Linked DNA regions of Homo sapiens: all the other regions are linked to region 1. Evidence: fine-mapped expression QTL. A gene starts in region 1. Each other region holds a variant in brackets. All regions are shown on one strand. Distances are between the middles of the regions.

Region 1 (5,579 bases):
CAACTCTCATTTTACACATGAGAAAACTGAGGCTCAGAGTGGTCAACAGCCTTGCCCAACAGCAGAGTTTCTCTGTGAAGGGAGCCATGTTGGTGCACATTGCCCGATTATCAGTGAACGTTGTGATTCCTTTTTCTACAAGATGAAGGCACATTTCATTATTTTACTGGCATATTTTCTCTCTAACCCAGCAGGTACACTGGAAATGATAATCCTGAAAACTTGTTAATGAAAGACTTACTTCAAGTGATGAGAAAAACAATACAAATGGATTAATTTCAGCAAGAAGTCACCAAGATTTGGCCAAACTCAAAACAGAAAAGTTTACATGTAAAAATAACAAAGGAATGTAACAACAGAATTGAAAATGGTATAACTAGAGTTTGCATGGTCCCCAAGCATTACTTTTTCAGGCTGATCCTCACATAAGTACAATTCTTCCACCCCTTCCCAATCTCATTCCTGTTCTTCTAAATTCAGAAACATGTGCAAACCCTGCTCTGGATCTCTTCTCCAGGCTTCCCCACAACACACATTTCCTTTAGGATTTTGCTTTTTTGGATTTATTTGTCCTGGTTAAAGCTGGTAGATAATCCCCACTGAGTTTTATCTATCATGCCTAGTAGCATTTAAATACCTGGTCTGGGAATTCCTAATGTATGCAAAGTGCATTTTTGTTAGAACCAGCTACACAAACAGATTACATAGATTACAAATGTCCTTTAGAATGTGAAACAGTGAATAATCTAAATGTAAACTGATAGGGAAATGGTTCAATTAACTTTGGCATATTGTGAAATACTGTGCAACAAAGCAAAAAGAAAAACAGGAGGATCTTAAATACTGACATGGACTGGTCTACAGGTTGCAAAGGAATACAGCACAGTATCATTTATGTTAAAAGGCCAACAAAAACATACATATATGTTTGTGGGTTCATATGTGTGTGTGTAAATTCATGGACAATGTTTGGAAAACTACATGAAATATGAAAGTGGTGAAAGTGGACACCTCTTGGAAGACAAGGAAATGGGGAGAGGTATGGGGGGTGTCAGAGAGGGCTTTAGTTTCACCTATAATGTCTGCAATGTCTTCATTTAATTTAAATAGGAAAAACATATAGAACCTATATGTGACCATAGGTTCTAAAATTCTTTTCATGTAACATATATAAATATTTATGTGACCGTTAATTTCCAATCATAATCTCAATGATAACATTTGTAAAAACATCTGCTCATCCTTGGAAATGAAATTTCCTATGCCACGTTATCACCCAAATCAACTTTTTAAAGTGTAAAAATAACAAGTATCTGAAAAGTTAAAGTTTACTTTCACAAGGTAAAATCAAGTGAGTCAACTCTAGGAGGCACAATCGTTTTGAGGACAATCAATTTCTATTTAATGGCAAAGAATAAGAAATATGGGATGGATTTAAATAAATCCAGTTTCACTCAAATTCCAAGTCAAAAATCAAATCAAAGTGTCAGATTGCTTAAATGATTCTAACCTGAGTTCGATTTCTAAGGTGCTCTTAATTTTTCAGTGATAGCATTTGCTTTTCCCAACAATAGCAAAGGAAAACTGGAGGGCAAGTTTTGCAAGGAAGAAACTGAGCCCCAGAGAGGTCAGGGTTTAGTGTGACGTCCCAGCTAGGAAGTGGCGGCTGGGACTCCCTGCAGGTGTCTCCTGCCAGCCCTCTGTGCGCTGGGCCAAGCTGCTTGATTTGATTCACCAGCGTGACACCGTGCATCTCCACATCCGGTGTTCTCACGTATCATCCCTGGCGATTATCTATGTGTCTATTTTTTAATTTACTGACCTCTGGAGGCCTGTCCCCGCCATCCCTGACTCCTAGGCACTGGACAAGCCCCCTCCTCGCCTCTTCCCCCAGCCCCGCGCATTCCACCTGTTCCGGGGCATCCCCGCTTGCTCCCTTCCGCTCGCTGCCTGTCCCGGGACCTGCGTGAAGCCCTCAGCCTCGCCACTAGCCCGGCAGCCGCTCCACTACCGCGCCGCTGCGGGTGGGGCCAGCGCGTCCCCCGGACGCGTGGAGGAGGGATGGAAGTGCGGGGGTGGGGGTCGCGCAGCCCCCACTCACCTTGCTGGCTGCGGGCGCCGCCGCCAGGAGCACCAGCAGGAGCGGCAGCAGGAGCACCTGCGGCCTGGGGGCGGTCCGGGCGCTCATGGTGGGCGCGCGCTCAGAGCCTGGGCGAGTCCGGGGACCCTCAGGCTCTCAGGCCACCGCGTCTCCTGCGCAGCGCGGCTCTGGGAGCCCGGCTGGAAAGCTCGCCTCGCCACTCGGCCGGGGCGGGTTTTGTAGGGCTCGGTCGCGCGGTTCGTCCCTCCCCACCCAGGCTTTTTGGTTGTGGCTTCAAGGGAGGGAAGACGTGGCTCAGGTCCCGCCCTCATACCCCCTCCCTCCCAACTTACCAGGCAGTGTCCCTTCTACCCGGGCATCGTGCCCAGGAGGCGAGAAAGGGCTGGGCGCCTGAGGGGCAGGTGGGCGCGGATCCAGGGTAAGGGGTTAAGGAGGTGATGCTCCCAAGGTCCGGGGGCCCAGGCGGGGAAGTGGGGTGCGGTCGGAGGTGGGGCGTTTGGGGGTGTGCGGTGGGGAGGTGGCTGCGCGGTGGGGAGGTGGCTGCGCAGGGTGGAGGGAGTGGCCAGCGGCCCTGCCCAGATTAAGCGGGAGGCGCGCCGGGCGTCTGCACTCGGGAGGCCCCGCTTGTTCCCCGCGCCCGCGGCGGTCCGCGTTCCCCGCCTCCAGCCCGCCTCCAACTTGCGGCCGCCGGGCTTGGCTGCGAGAGCGCCGCGAAGAGGCAGCGGGGCGCGGGTGGATTGGGGCTGGAGGTGCGCGTCCCGTGGGGTGGCAAGGCGGCAGCTCCTGGCGCTGCGGGCGTCCCCACAGGTAAGGCGCCCATAGGTGGGGCAACCGCTGTCCCGGGGCCCCGGCACCTGCCTGGGAGGGGCAGTGGAGGGAGCGTGGCATTCAAGGGGTGGTGGCGGGCCCAGCTGGGGAGTTGTGGCCCGGGGGTCACCAGAGGAGAGCGCGTCTGGCTCCTGGGCTTGTCTGCCTGGGCTTTAACTGGGTGCTGTGTGTTTTGATTAATTTGGAGGCTCGAGTTACCGGCCTGGCAGTCGGGGCACTCCAAAATGCCAAGAGAAAGAGGCAGCTGAGGAGAAAGAGAAAGCCCATCTTATTCTCCGCTGAGTTGAACTGCTTTTCAGGCCAAATCTTATCTGCGGAAATGCAGGGCAAAACAAGACTCAGCTCTGGTCAGGGTGCGCTCTTCCTGGGGGTGGCCTGCGATGCAAATGTGCCAGGGCACGGTCCTCCAGCCGGCTCTCGCCGTTTCCTGTGCTACGGACCACACTGGCTCTGGTAAAGCAATTAGACTGTTTCTCAGAAGAATGTTGTGAAATGCATAAAATACAATTAAATCAGAATCAGTTTTATTGGAATGCAATTATGGAAGTCCTCAAGTCGTGATATAGTAACTAACACAGGTGCATCATCATTATTGCATTAAATAGCTTGATTTAACAGCAGGCCGATTAAGCAACAGTAATGTCAAAGTAGTGATGTCTGCAAATGGTATTTTGAGATAATAGCCCAAACTGAAATGTGACATGAAAATACCGGTGGGTGCAAATTATCAAGAACTGCCAATACTACTGTGCTCTGTTGCCTGTGCTCATAAGGGAAGGACATGTTGAACTTCTGTGACATGTTACTAAAAGTAAAGATGCAACTTATTTTCCTATGTGAGTTTCCTATACAGATCACCTGAATTCCATCCTCAGGTTAAGAATCTTTGCTTTGGAACAGTGTTGCTGATATTTGCTGCAATTGGCTTCAGACACCAAGTATGATCATGCAGTTGGTCACTGATTTTAGGGAACCACTTGCTTGCAGTTAAATTTGGGATCTATTGGTATCTTAGAACTTTGTAGCCATGCAGGTAGGCAAAACCCTAACAGTGAATGAAGACACTCCTCCCATTCTTTTTATTTTGACTATAGCATGAATCTTACAGTCTTCTTTCTGTCTTTTATGCCAGTGATTCTCAACTATCGTTGTGCATTAGAATCTTTGGGAGGATAAAACAATGTTGCTACCCAGACCATTCCAAGCCAATTTTATCAGACTCTCTAGCTGTTTTAAAATTTCCTGTACATTCCCATGCACAATCAAGTATGAGAGCTCCTGTTTTCACGAACATGTGAAAATTTCACGCACATGTTGAATTAGGATATATTCTTAGTAGAATAATAAAAAGCACATATATTAAACTCTTCATTACAACTTGGGAACACTGCGGAATTTATGACCATATCGCAGATGTTGCTGTGTGGTATGCAGTAGCTTCTTTCCATTGGTAGGGAAGGTTCTTCTGGAAACTTCTGCCACTCTTGTGGAATGAAACGGTAGGTGTTCTGTTGATGAGGTGACAGTGTCCAAGAGTTCTGAGAGTCACATGATTATGTTTCACAAACTGACAGTATTTAATTTTAAAAAGTACAAACAAAAAAATCTCAATGCTAATGTTAAATGCTTCTCTTTGCCAAATTCCAGAAGATTCCTCAATTTGAATTTTAATTGCCTTTTCCTGAAACCAAGTCATTTTGTTGGAGGACTAGACTTGGTTTTATCAATTTTGGAACAGGAAGTAATAGTCAACTGCAAGTCATTTCTGTTGCAGATACAGAGCTGGAAAGAAACTTGTGATGTAAATACAGCAAGAAAGAGGCAATGCTGGAGAGCTTGACCTCTGGAGTAGACTCTGGAGTTTTGAATCCTTTCCATACTTACTAGTGTGACCTAACCTCTCTGGGCTGGAGTCTTCCTTCTATAAAATAGACATACTCACCATACCCACCTCAGGGAGTTGTTGGAATCTAATGAGATAGCAAAAACCCTTTGTGCAGAATCTTCACACAGTAGTCACATAGTGAAATTTGATTCTTTTTTTTTTTTTGTACAAAGGAAAATAGGTGGCCCTGATGAGAAATGGTGGCACGTGGTAGAGATGCTCTTCTGAGCTCAGTACTAAAATGGCTGGAGGCAAGCATAGCCTATGAACTCCCTTGAGGTTAATACACTTCCAAGGCCTCTAGAACCTTGCCTTGGCATCCCTTGGGACCAGCAGCATTGGCCTCCCTGGGAGCTTGCTGGAAATGTAGAGTCTCTGGTCTCACTCTGGATCCACTGAATCAGATCCCACATTCACCAAGATCTCCAGGTGATTCGTATGCACCTGGTACTTAAAACTCTGAGAAGTTGCTTATCTAAAAGCCACATTTAACCACCTATTCCCCACCTGCCACATTTAGAACAATGTTTGACAGGCTCACCTGTCAAACAAACAGGTGGTGTTAATTAACTGGAAGGCTTGATTGTTAAAAAAATTGTCTTTGGGTCAAGAGAGTTGATTTTTCACAGTTGGTTCTTTAAATGTAAAACAGCAAGAGGAAAGGAGGATGGTTCTTTTCGTACATTCAAAGGACACAGAGGTCTCTATTTTTTTACTTTGATGCCATGTAGGAGTTTTAAACAAAATGAGTGGTTATTGTCTTTG
Region 2 (5,579 bases), 28 kb before region 1:
CTGGCAAAAGATCAGAGAGAGGGAAGGAGCAGAGCGAGGTCAGGGCCTCTACTTTCCTGGCTCCCTCCCTGCAGGGCTACCTTGAGCACCTGGTCCCTCCCTCACAGCCCCTCACCCCTCAGCCCTCATTGATTGTGGCCAACTCAATACCACTCTCTTTCTTAGATCCAGGAAAGGGAGCAGTGGTGGAAATAACTTGTCTGTTGAACTATCTCAGACGGTTTACCTGAACCTCACCTTTGTAAACAGTGTCTCTATAAATAAACTTCTCAAATTATCCAATTGTGAGTGTGTCGTGGGTTTCTTATTGGGATGCTGATGATATAACAGGTATGCATTTTCTTCAGAAGACTCTTTGGAACATAACCCATAGGACTCTTCCTTCCTTCCTTCCTTCTTTCCTCCCTCCCTCTCTCCTTACTTCCCTTCTCCTTCTCCTCTCCTTCTCTTTCTCTCCCCTTCCTTCCTTCTTCTCTCCTTCCTTCCCTTCTCTTTCTCCTCTCCTTCTCCTTCTCTCCCCTTCCTTCCTTCCTTCCTTCCTCCCTCCCTCTCTCCTTATTTCCCTTCTCCTTCTCCTCTCCTTCTCTCCCCTTCCTTCCTTCCTTCCTCCCTCCCTCTCTCCTTATTTCCCTTCTCCTTCTCCTCTCCTTCTCTCCCCTTCCTTCCTTCCTTTCCTTCCCTCCCTCCCTCCCCTTCCTTCCTTCCTTCCTTCCTTCCTTCCTTCCTTCCTTCCTTCCTTCCTTCCCTCCCTCCCTCCCTCCTTCCTTCTTTCTTTCTTTTTTCTTCTTTTGCCTCACTCTGTCACCAGGCTGGAGTGCACTGGTGCAATCTCGGCTCACTGCAACTTCAGTCTCCCTGGTTCAAGAGATTCTCCTGCCTCAACCTCCCAAGTAGCTGGGATTACAGGCATGCACAACCACGCCTGGCTAATTTTTGTATTTTTAGTAGAGATGGGGTTTCATCATGTTGGCCAGGATGGTCTCCAACTCCTGACCTTGTGATCCGCCCACCTCGGCCTCCCCAAGTGCTAGGATTACAGGCGTGAGCCGCCGTGCCCAGCCAGGATTTTATTTCTAATCTTTGCATCATGAATATTTATTTAAACATCCTGCCATTGTGATCTTGAGTCCTTCCTTAAACTAAGAGTTATTTAGGAAAAAGATTTAAAATGCATAGGTAGGCCTTTTGCTGTCGTTGTTTTAAATTTTATTGCATTGTAAACAGATTTTGATTCTTCATCCAGTTCCATAAGTTTATCTAATTTGTAGAATTCCTTCATTGTTTCTTTGTGGTCAAATTATGGTCCATTTTTATAAATATTCTATGAGCACTGGGAATGAAGATGTATCCTTGTAGGGAGGAGATGCACTTAGTCCTATCAGGTGAAACTTTTTAATTGCATTATTCAGTTTCTCTAAACTAGTGCATCTCAAAGCATGGGTCTCAGTTTCTTACCTATGACAAGGTAAATATAGAAATTGAAAGTAAGCATTTAGAAAGCTTAGAGTGATTTGATAGAGTGATTTTATGCTGATTAAAATATTTGGGCTTATATTTTATATCTTTTAATTTCATTTTCTTTTAATTTTTTATTCTTATATTTTAAGAAAGTATTGGCTCACAATATAATGGAAATGTAAAAACAAAACAAAATTTTCTTCACTATAGAAAGTTTGAGAAACACTGTTCCAAACTCTTATTTGGGTTGACTCGATTCGTCAAGGATTGTTCATTCATGATTCACACTCACTCCCCAGGGGACAATGAAACCTCTCTCCCTGCCCTCCAGGACACCCCTAACCTTCTCCCCACCCTTCACTACAACAACTACCACAAACACACACTGAGCAAAGTCCCAAGGGACACTTGCAGAGATTGAGGACTTGGGGCACATGAGACCGTCAAGTGATCTCCATACAACCACCATTGTGGTGGGGTTTGAAGACTTTCAAAGCCCCAATACCAAGGGTGGGACAGGGGTTCACATTTATGTATACAGCATCATTTGATTCCACAATTAGCTGAGATGAAAAGAGGGTAGAGATGAAAAGGTTGGTTTTCATCCTGCCCTGGTCAGGGTCTGAGGAAAATGAAATGAGCAAGTCAAATATGATAGTGTGTGCTAAACCACATCTAACATTTCAAAGCATTATGTGCACATGAAGAAATTAAATATTTAATAAAATGGTAGGGGAGAAAGACAACAACCAGACACAAACTTAGCCTTCTTCACAATTCTATAACTAGGTTTAGACAAGCTGTTCAAGACAAAATTGATAGTCAGAACCTGGAGTAATAATTGTTTGGGATTAATTTACCATCTGTTTTTCAATGACGTTTTGCAACTGGATGGTATAATTACCGTTTATACTCTGTGTCAAAAGCAAAGAGAGATAAAAATGAATACTTGAGCACAGAGAGATAAAAATGAATGCTTGAATTTAGAGCAAATTCTTCCTTTTTAAAGATTTGCTTTAGAGATGAAGAAATTCACTGTACACATTCACAGAGAAATTTAAGGAAATATGACTTTCCTTCGATAATTTTTTTCCCTTTCCACAATTCTCAAGTGTCTGTTTTTGATAAGGGCACTGCTGTTGAAGAAATTGCCAAATTTATTCCAAGGTCTTTGTGTTTTGTAAGAGAATCTGTAATATTCTAAGTTCTTCTTATTATTAGCGTTCCAGAAACTAATTATGAAAAAAATCTTTATTTTTAGCCTTCATAATTACAAAAATAAGAAAATGATTTTCATTTAAGGTAACCTGAGATATGCCCAGTAGTTGTAAACACAGTTGTCTTTTATTAGAATAAAGTTTCTTGCAGGCCATAATGTAAAA[C/T]TTCAGCTACATCTGTCTCCAAGATGAGTTATTTGGCCGACTTTGAAATCTGATCATCCTGATTTGCTGAGTCACTGTAATCTCCCATTGCAGCCCCTTGGCAGGTTCTTTGAATCCTTGATGCGGGGAATGGCCAACAGGGGAGCTCCACAAATGCACCGTGGATGGAGCCATTCAACATTTGTATGTGGCTGGTAAAGAGTGATTTTGTGAACTGCTTTTCAAAACACTTCTTAGCTTTCTTTATTGTTCTTCCTGCCCCCTCACCCACTTAAATTTTTTGTTTTTGCCTAAAGTCTGAATTCAGAAAATAGGTCTTTTGTATATGCCAACAGTCTTAAACTTTTGCGTCCTTTACAAAAAAAAAATCCATTTCTGGGAATGTGTACGAGGAATGTACTTCCAAATCAAGCAGAGTGTCATTGGCATGATCATAGCAGTATTACTTATAATAATAAAAATTTTGTTATTCCCCAAGTATCCAAAAAGAGCAAAGTGGTTGAGAAAATTTAAATGTCAAAAATTGTTTCCATGGCCATATACGTATTATTTATGTAGTCTATTTTTAAGAGAAAAAAGACATAAAATTTCATATATAATAACCTTTGCATCTATTTTTTAAAAAATTCTATACATAATAGAAGTGCTAGAAGAAGATGCTAAAAACATTAATGATATTGTCCTTAAGTAGTAAACTATGATTTGCTTTTTTCCTTTTAACTTTTCAGAATTTTGCACATTTTCATTAGTTATGACATATTACTGTTACCCAGTCTGGAGTGCAGTGGCATGGTCTTGGCTCACTGAAACCTTCACCTCTTGGTGTCAAGCGATCCTCCCACATCAGCCTTCTGAGTAGCTGGGACTACAGGTGTGTGCCACCAGGCCTGACTAATTTTTTAATTTTTTGTAGAGACGAGGTTTCGCCATGTTGGCCAGGCTGCTCTCAAACTCCTGAGCTCAAGCAATCTGCCTGCCTTGGCCTCCCCAAAGTGCTGGGATTAGAGCCACGATGCCCAGACTACCTATTACTTTTATAATAGAAAATAATTAATACACTTTGTTTTAATTAGTGATACATTTCAACCTCAAAGAATACACAAAGTCCCTCTTCTGTTACATATTTTGATCCGAAATAATAAACTGATATGTATATATTCCTAGATGACATATAAAACATATCTATTTATGTGTTTGCTTCAGACTGTAGAAGTGTTTCCATTTTAGTTCCTCAGGAATGGGTACAGACTGTTGTGAGAAGCATCATGCATGTCCATATTTTAAAAGGGAGTCAGGATCTGCAAGAAATGGAATTCAAGGCATGTTTGCAGAGCCAGCAGAGGAAATATAGTATCATGGAGCAGGCACGCCAAGATGGCAGTAAGGGAGAAGCATCACTCTCTTGAGTTACCTCCAGCTCTTGAGGGACCTGCATGTGCCTTGCATTTAAAATATGACAATTGATCTCAATGTATTCTTGTTTGATGAATTTTTCAACTCATTTATGAATAGTGACTGCAGCTAAGATGCATCAGGGAATGTGCTGAATGCAGGGGATGTTTGCTTTTTTTTCTTTTTTTTTCCACCTGACATTCTTCCTTTCTCTTGGTAGAAGCACATCCATCTACCTAGCCACTGTTATGGCGTTAGAGCATGCAACTCCAAAGTTTTTCTCTGATGATTTCTGGGAAAGGAAACTTCCTGATTTGGGGGGAAGAATTACTGGTAGAAATGGCTTGTCTTCATAGCAGAATAACACAGAGAAGTATATGGCTGAGACCACGAGGGAAAGCAATCTTAGGATGAAGCAGACATCATGTGAAGACAAGGGGTGAAGGAAACCTGGTCTTTGATGATATCTTTGAAATGCTAGGTCCAGCCTCACCTGAAACCTCCATGACTTCTAAATTTTTAAATTATGGAAGCAAATAAATATATGTAAAATGGTTTACTCTATTTTGAATGGAGAGTTTTAGGTTACTTACAATTTCAAGCCTGCAAATTAGAACTCTGGGTTATTTAGGTCTTACTTGATAAAAGAAATGCATACTAATATAGTGAAATGGACAGGCTTTTTACCGATACTAACTTGTAACACGAATGTAGCACAAGTCTCTGGGTGAGCAGTTCTTTGATGCTAAATTTGGGAGGGTGCAGAGTCATCTATCAGTCATCACCACATCACGTTGATTAGACCAAAAAACTCACAGATCTGCTTGCTTCTTTCCACCCTCTTGGTCACTGTGTTCCTTTTGGCCACCTCCTTGTCTCACGGGGATCACCACCACACCTTGCCTCTGCTTCTCTGTGTTCTACCCACCTCCTCTCTTGCTCACCTCTAATCCATTTCCCACACCACAACCAGGGTCTCTTTCCAAAGCACAAATCTCATGATGTTTCTGATCTGCTCAAGATTTTTCTGTGCTCTCCATTCCTCTAAGGATCAAGGTCAAACTCCTTCTTATGACACTACAGGATGGAGCCCTGCCTTTCTCCCCAGCTCCCTTTTCCTTCCTCCCCTGGCCTCTCTCCCTCCAGACACTCACCTTCTCTCTGGTGCTCAAACAGAATCCCAAGCCAACATGGGCTGTTTTCTGTATATGGAAGAGTCTCTCCTCCCATCCTTCCTGGCTAGATTTCAGTCTCAGTGTGGACATCATTTTCTCTGGGAAGGGTTTTCTGACACCCTTCTATATGCTCCTTCGGCAGGCATTCTCTGTCATTGCATCCCTGTCCTAT
Region 3 (5,579 bases), 64 kb before region 1:
ACACTATGGTTACTTTAATAGTAATAACCCATTCATTACTATTCAACTGTTAAATCACATAAAAAACCAGGATGGCCAAAGGCTAACTATTAAGGAAGCATAACTAATGGATATTTCTTAAGCAACATTTTTATGATTTTTCTCCTTCCAGCAATAAATTACCCCATAGTTTCCTCATATCTTAATGGAATACAAAATCATTTGTCATGAACAGAAAGCTCTTAATAATAATATTATGGCTTTTAAACCCCCTCCTGCCATCAGGAAATGACCCGAGATTACATGATGTTTTAGCACTTTTGAATATTAAGTAGTTAAACTTGTGGAAATCATTCTTTTTCACAGTTGCATTTCTGTTTTACGGCCTTACTTAAAATGCAAAATAAACTTTCATTGTAGAGAATCCAAAAAGGTTTGGAATTCCAGAAATCACAGGCCATGTATGTATGGACCTACTGAATATATACGGACCCATCTATGTTGAGTCTACTCCCAGCATTGTAGCTACAAACTGGAGCTTTGGGAAATTTCTTTTTTTTTTTTTTTTGAGATGGAGTCTTGCTCTGTTGCCCAGGCTGGAGTGCAGTGGCACGGTCTCGGCTCACTGCAAGCTCCACCTCCCGAGTTCACGCCATTCTCCTGCCTCAGTCTCCCGAGTAGCTGGGACTATAGGCGCCCACCACCACGCCCAGCTAATTTTTTGTATTTTTTTTAGTAGACACAGGGTGTCACCCTGTTAGCCAGGATGGTCTCGATCTCCTGACCTCGTGATCCACTCACCTTGGCCTCCCACAGTGCTGGGATTACAGGCGTGAGCCACCGCGCCCGGCCGGGAAATTTCTTAATCCTTCCAGGTTCCCCCATCTGTCAAGGGAGATACTAGGATGTACCTTGCAGTGTTTTTGTAAGGAGTTGAGATGCTGTCACTAGCCTGCCTGGTACCCTGCACTCAATAAGGACTCAGTCACTGGGGGACTCCCCTTTCTCCTTTTCAAGATTCCAAGCCAAAGGACATCCACAACTATTGTTTGATCCTTTCTTCCATCAGTCTGCACTAGCCACCTTCCTCCCTGACATTTCCTCTTGAAGTCCCTTGTCCAGTGCCAAAGAACTGGTGTTGAATCTAAGAGCAAGGGTGAGAGACTGCTGTTATCTATCTCTAACAAACAATAAATGAATTAACTCATATTTGTTAATAGTATTATTAGAGTACACTGACTATATTGGTTGATTAACCAAATATCATTTGCCTAAGAGCACAGACACATTACAATGTTTTATTTAACAAAATATTGGTTAGAGACCCCAATGGTACTTGATGCTTATCCAAGAAAGGTGCCAGATCAAATATATTACACAAAGGCAGCAAGCCTTCCAGGAGTGCGGATCAATTGGGTCTCACACTCTTCTCTTGATCTCAATTCTCGCAGTGCCCGTGTGCCACCCATGTCTCACCTGCACATCGCTTTCTCTTATGAGGCAAAGTGGTACAGGGTGAAGGGCACCAGTTCCAGAGACGTACTTCCTGGGTCTAAATCCCAGCTCTGCCACCTCACCTCTGTGAGTCTAGGCAGTCTCAGGTGTCTCGGTTTCCACATCTGTGAAATGGGGTCAGATTGGTTAGCACAGGTAAGCCCTTAGAAGAGTTCATAGGATACACTGAGGGCTGTTACTGTAGGCTGTTACTAACTCATTGACTTGACATGGATCATTAGGTGCTCCTGAGTTGAGGGTTTATCACTTTCCCTAAACTGCAGGTGGGAACGGTGTCTCACAATTCCTTATATCCCCCTAGCACTGTAAACAATTATCTTTTTATCCTTAAAACTCATGAAGGATCTCATTAAACACATCCATTTTTATTGTTCGTTAAAAGGATCAGGAAATATGCACATGCATTTTTATTAATAGACCAGAACATAATTTCCAAATAATCTTGACTATTTCTCTCTCTACTGTCAACAGCCAGCATGCTCGTTCCTGTGCATGCTGGTGAAACAGACGTGGCCTGCCCTGCCTTTCTCCAATCTCTCTCCCGCAGCCCAGCCCAGCCCAGCCTGGTTTAATAGCAGGGGGAGTTGGCACCGTTCACAGCTGGTTAACACCCTACTGAGCAGGTCTGTTGATTTTGCATTATGATTACTGACCCTGCCAGTCCCTCTGCCCAGCCAATAGCCTGAGGGGAAAGTTTTTGTGTGTGAAAAGAAGAGCTGACCAAGTATAGCCAAACCGTGCCAGACAGACGCCACGAGCTGTCCTCTGCAGGGCCGCCTCTGCCCGTGTCTGCCTTAAGCAACCAACCATGTGCCCTGGCACCATGCCCTCCAGTGAAGAAGAATGACACCCATGGACTGCTTTGCGGGATGCCCCCGCCTGCCCCGCCCTGAAGCTGCTGTCACCACCCTTGGACATCAAAGAAATCTCACTGCAGCTGCCACTTCCTATCCCTCAACTCCCGTCCAGAGACACATCACTAGTCTAGACATGTAAGCCAGCCACCCGTTTTTGATTTTCTGGATGACAGCAAGCATACAGATTACTAACTCTGACAAAGACGGTGCAGTGAGGGCTCTCTGGTACATTTGAGAATAAATAATATGGTAAGAAAATTTTGCCCGTCTTATGCAATGCAGAGAATGGTAAGTATACCTATAATCATTAACTCCAGGTTCCTTTTTTTTTCTTTTCTTTTTACCCCCTAAAAGGTTTTGAATGCAGAAAGACTGAGAAAACTTCACTATTCATGTAAGAAAAATAGGCTCCACGGGATCCCTTGATCAGGATGGTGGTAGAGGAAATGAACTTCCATCAGCACTGTAATGATCTCAGTATGTTTTGAGCACTTTCAGTGCTG[G/T]CTGTCTCATATTATCTCATTATATCTTACAACAATTCTGTAAGGGAGGTACTGTTATAAGCTCCATCTAATAGATGAGAAACCTAGGATTTTGAGAGGCTAAGGATAGTAAGGAACATGGGGAGTGGGGATCTGAATTCAGGTGAGACAGTCTGACCCAGGGTCAGTCATATTCTCAGGTGCAGTGTTGCATTTCTTCTTCTTCTTTTTTTTTTTGAGATGGAGTCTTGCTCTGTCACCCAGACTGGAGTGCAGTGATGCAATATTGGCTGACTGCAACCTCTGCCTCCCAGGTTCAAATGATTCTCCAGTAGAGATGGGGTTTCACCATGTTGGCCAGGCTGGTCTCAAACTCCTGAGCTCAAGTGATCCACCCACCTCGGCCTCCCAAAGTGCTGGGATTACAGGCGTGAGCCAGCGTGCCCGGCCTGTATTTCATTATTGACGGGCTCTGCTGGCCACAAGGCACTGGGGGAGGAGGGGTATGTTTCTCCCCCTCTCACCCTATCACTGTGCCCCTCATGATGGGACGTAAAATCCCAGTGAAAAACATAACATAGTAGCTCATGAAATTAGCTGTATAATGCAGGACTTGGCAGACAGCAGCTTGCAGGACAAATCCAGCCCTCTGCCTGTTTCCATCCGGCCTATGAGCTAAGACTGGTTTTTATATTTTTCATGGTTGAAACAAAATTAAGAGAGAAATAACATTTTGTAATGTGAAAATTATATAAACTTTAAATCTCAATGTCCATAAGTTTGCATTTCATCAATACAAATGTTGTGGATATTTATTTTCTCTCTTGTTATATAGGTATCTGCATAGTAGCCTTCATTTTGCCTCTTGGCTTGCAAAGCCTAAAATATTTACTACGTGGCTCTTTATGGGAAAAGCTTGGTGATTCCTGGTACAAATTATCTTCATTATATTTTTTCTATGGCAATATAAAAATTGCATTAAAAATTAAGATAGAGGCCAGGTGCGGTGGCTCATGCCTATAATCTCAGCACTTTGGGAGGCCGAGGCAGGTAGATCACCTGAGGTCAGGAGTTCAAGGCCAGCCTGGCCAACTGGGGGAAACCCCGTCTCTACTAAAAATACAAAAATTAGTTTGGCATGATGTTGAGTGCCTATAATCCCAGCTACCTGGGTGGCTGAGGCAGGAGAATTGCTTGAACCTAGTAGGTGAAGGTTACAGTAAGCAAAGATTGCACCACTGTACTCCAGCCTGGGCAACAGAGCAAGACTCCATCTAAAAAAAAAAAAACAAACCTAACATTAGAATAGAAACTTAAAGAAGAGATCAGCTGTGAGTTCCAGTGAGAGATGGTCTTCTACCTTGGAATGGCAGACTGGGACCTGTCTCTTCTTTCTGTCCGCCTACCCCCATGTGCCTCCCCTTCTCCCACTGTGCTTCTGTCCAGAGCTTGGGGGACACAGGGAATACAATTTGGGGACTGGAAGAACCCAGCAGATCCTCTAGTCCAAAAGTTCTTCATGTTTTGAACTTCACAGGGCAATAAAATAAATGTGTCTTAAAAGGAAGACAAACAGAGGGCTGTCTTAGTTATATTTTTCAATATAAGAGCAATGGCCACCTCCAAACACAAACCAACACAATCACCCACCCCCCAAACCACAGCAGACCTCTCATCTACTGTCCTCATATTCCAGAGAAAAATTAAGATACCATAAAGCAAGTAAAATGCCCACAGAATAAAATATGTTCCTGGCTGGGCATGGTGGCTCACGACTGTAATCCCAGCACTTTGGGAAGCCGAGGCGGGTGGATTACTTGAAGTCAGGAGTTCAAGACCAGCCTGGCCAACAGGGTGAAACCCTGTCTCTACTAAAAATACAAAAGTTAGCCGGGCATGGTGGAGTGTAATTATAGTCCCAGGTACTCGGGTGGCTAAGGCAAGAGAATCGCTTCAACCTGGGAGGTGGAGGTTGCAGTAAGCAGAGGTTACATCACTACACTCCAGTCTGGGAGACAGGGTGAGATCTGTCTCAACAAAAAAAAAAAAAAAAAAGAAAGAAAAAGCTGTTCCCTTAACATGGGAACTTGATAAAAAGCTCCCATTTTACTTGATTAAAAAAAAAAATCTCTACCTCGTTCTTATTTTTCTCACTTGCTTTGGCCTGGTGCAACCCTGCACTGGGAACCACTAAATTAGCCACACCCACCTCCACTCTCTCTTGTTGGTCACTCTTTGCTTTGTCACCTGCTGCTGCAGGGTCTTCTGTCTGAGAGGTGAAAGTAAACTAATCTTATCGAGAGACATGATGCTAATGGGTTAATTTTTAAAAATCCGCCTGGGAACTGACACATTTTTCAGAAAACATTACCTCTTAAAACAAACAAAAAAGACAGAAAGCTGCCACCAGTGCCACAAGTGATGGAAAATTCGAGCTGCAGGCTGGCAGGTGGAGACGCATATTAAGGCGGATGGGACTTCTTAGGTCATGTGCCTGGTTTGTCTATTCATAGGACCATTTGAAAAAAAATCTTTGAAAATGTTATTTACAAAACCAAAGTTTAGGCCAGGTGGCTCACACCTGTTATCCTAGCATTTTGGGAGGCCAAGGTGGGAGGATTACTTGAGCCCAGGGGTTGGAGACCAGCCGGGGCAACATAGTGGGACCCTGTCTCTATAAAAAAAATTAGCCAGGCATGGTGGCGCAAGCCTGTAGTTCCAGCTACTCAGGATGCTGAGGCGGGAG

Which allele goes with the higher level. Positions count from the first base shown, and alleles are read on the strand shown. Sizes are in standard deviations (SD) of each study's normalised expression.
As copies of T replace C in region 2, the expression in skeletal muscle of the gene that starts at base 2,291 in region 1 goes down (moderate effect, 0.52 SD a copy in FUSION).
With allele G in place of T in region 3, the expression in thyroid of the gene that starts at base 2,291 in region 1 is higher (small effect, 0.21 SD a copy in GTEx).

What was found. PIP is the estimated chance that this variant, and not a neighbour inherited with it, causes the effect.
Region 2: its variant is fine-mapped to the expression of COL4A3 in skeletal muscle (FUSION, PIP 0.95).
Region 3: its variant is fine-mapped to the expression of COL4A3 in thyroid (GTEx, PIP above 0.99).

What each region holds. Positions count from the first base shown.
Region 1 is chr2:227,161,336-227,166,914 of GRCh38, reverse strand. It overlaps COL4A3 (collagen type IV alpha 3 chain), which reads right to left and starts at 2,291. Exons shown (of 52, transcript NM_000091.5): 1 at 2,102-2,291. The coding sequence starts at 2,188. COL4A4 (collagen type IV alpha 4 chain) reads left to right here and starts at 2,710. Exons shown (of 48, transcript NM_000092.5): 1 at 2,710-2,908. RefSeq lists silencers at 2,058-2,237, 2,458-2,837 and enhancers at 3,108-3,207, 2,482-3,383.
Region 2 is chr2:227,188,914-227,194,492 of GRCh38, reverse strand. All of the region lies in intron 1 of COL4A3 (collagen type IV alpha 3 chain), which reads right to left. Among named protein-coding and RNA genes, the nearest start is that of COL4A3, 27 kb to the right of the region's middle. RefSeq lists an enhancer at 2,571-3,770. The variant C/T (reference allele first, on the strand shown) is at 2,841.
Region 3 is chr2:227,225,019-227,230,597 of GRCh38, reverse strand. The region is part of intron 1 of COL4A3 (collagen type IV alpha 3 chain); the gene reads right to left. It overlaps MFF-DT (MFF divergent transcript), which reads left to right. Exons shown (of 14, transcript NR_102371.1): 11 at 1,966-2,117; 12 at 2,706-2,828. Among named protein-coding and RNA genes, the nearest start is that of COL4A3, 63 kb to the right of the region's middle. The variant G/T (reference allele first, on the strand shown) is at 2,855.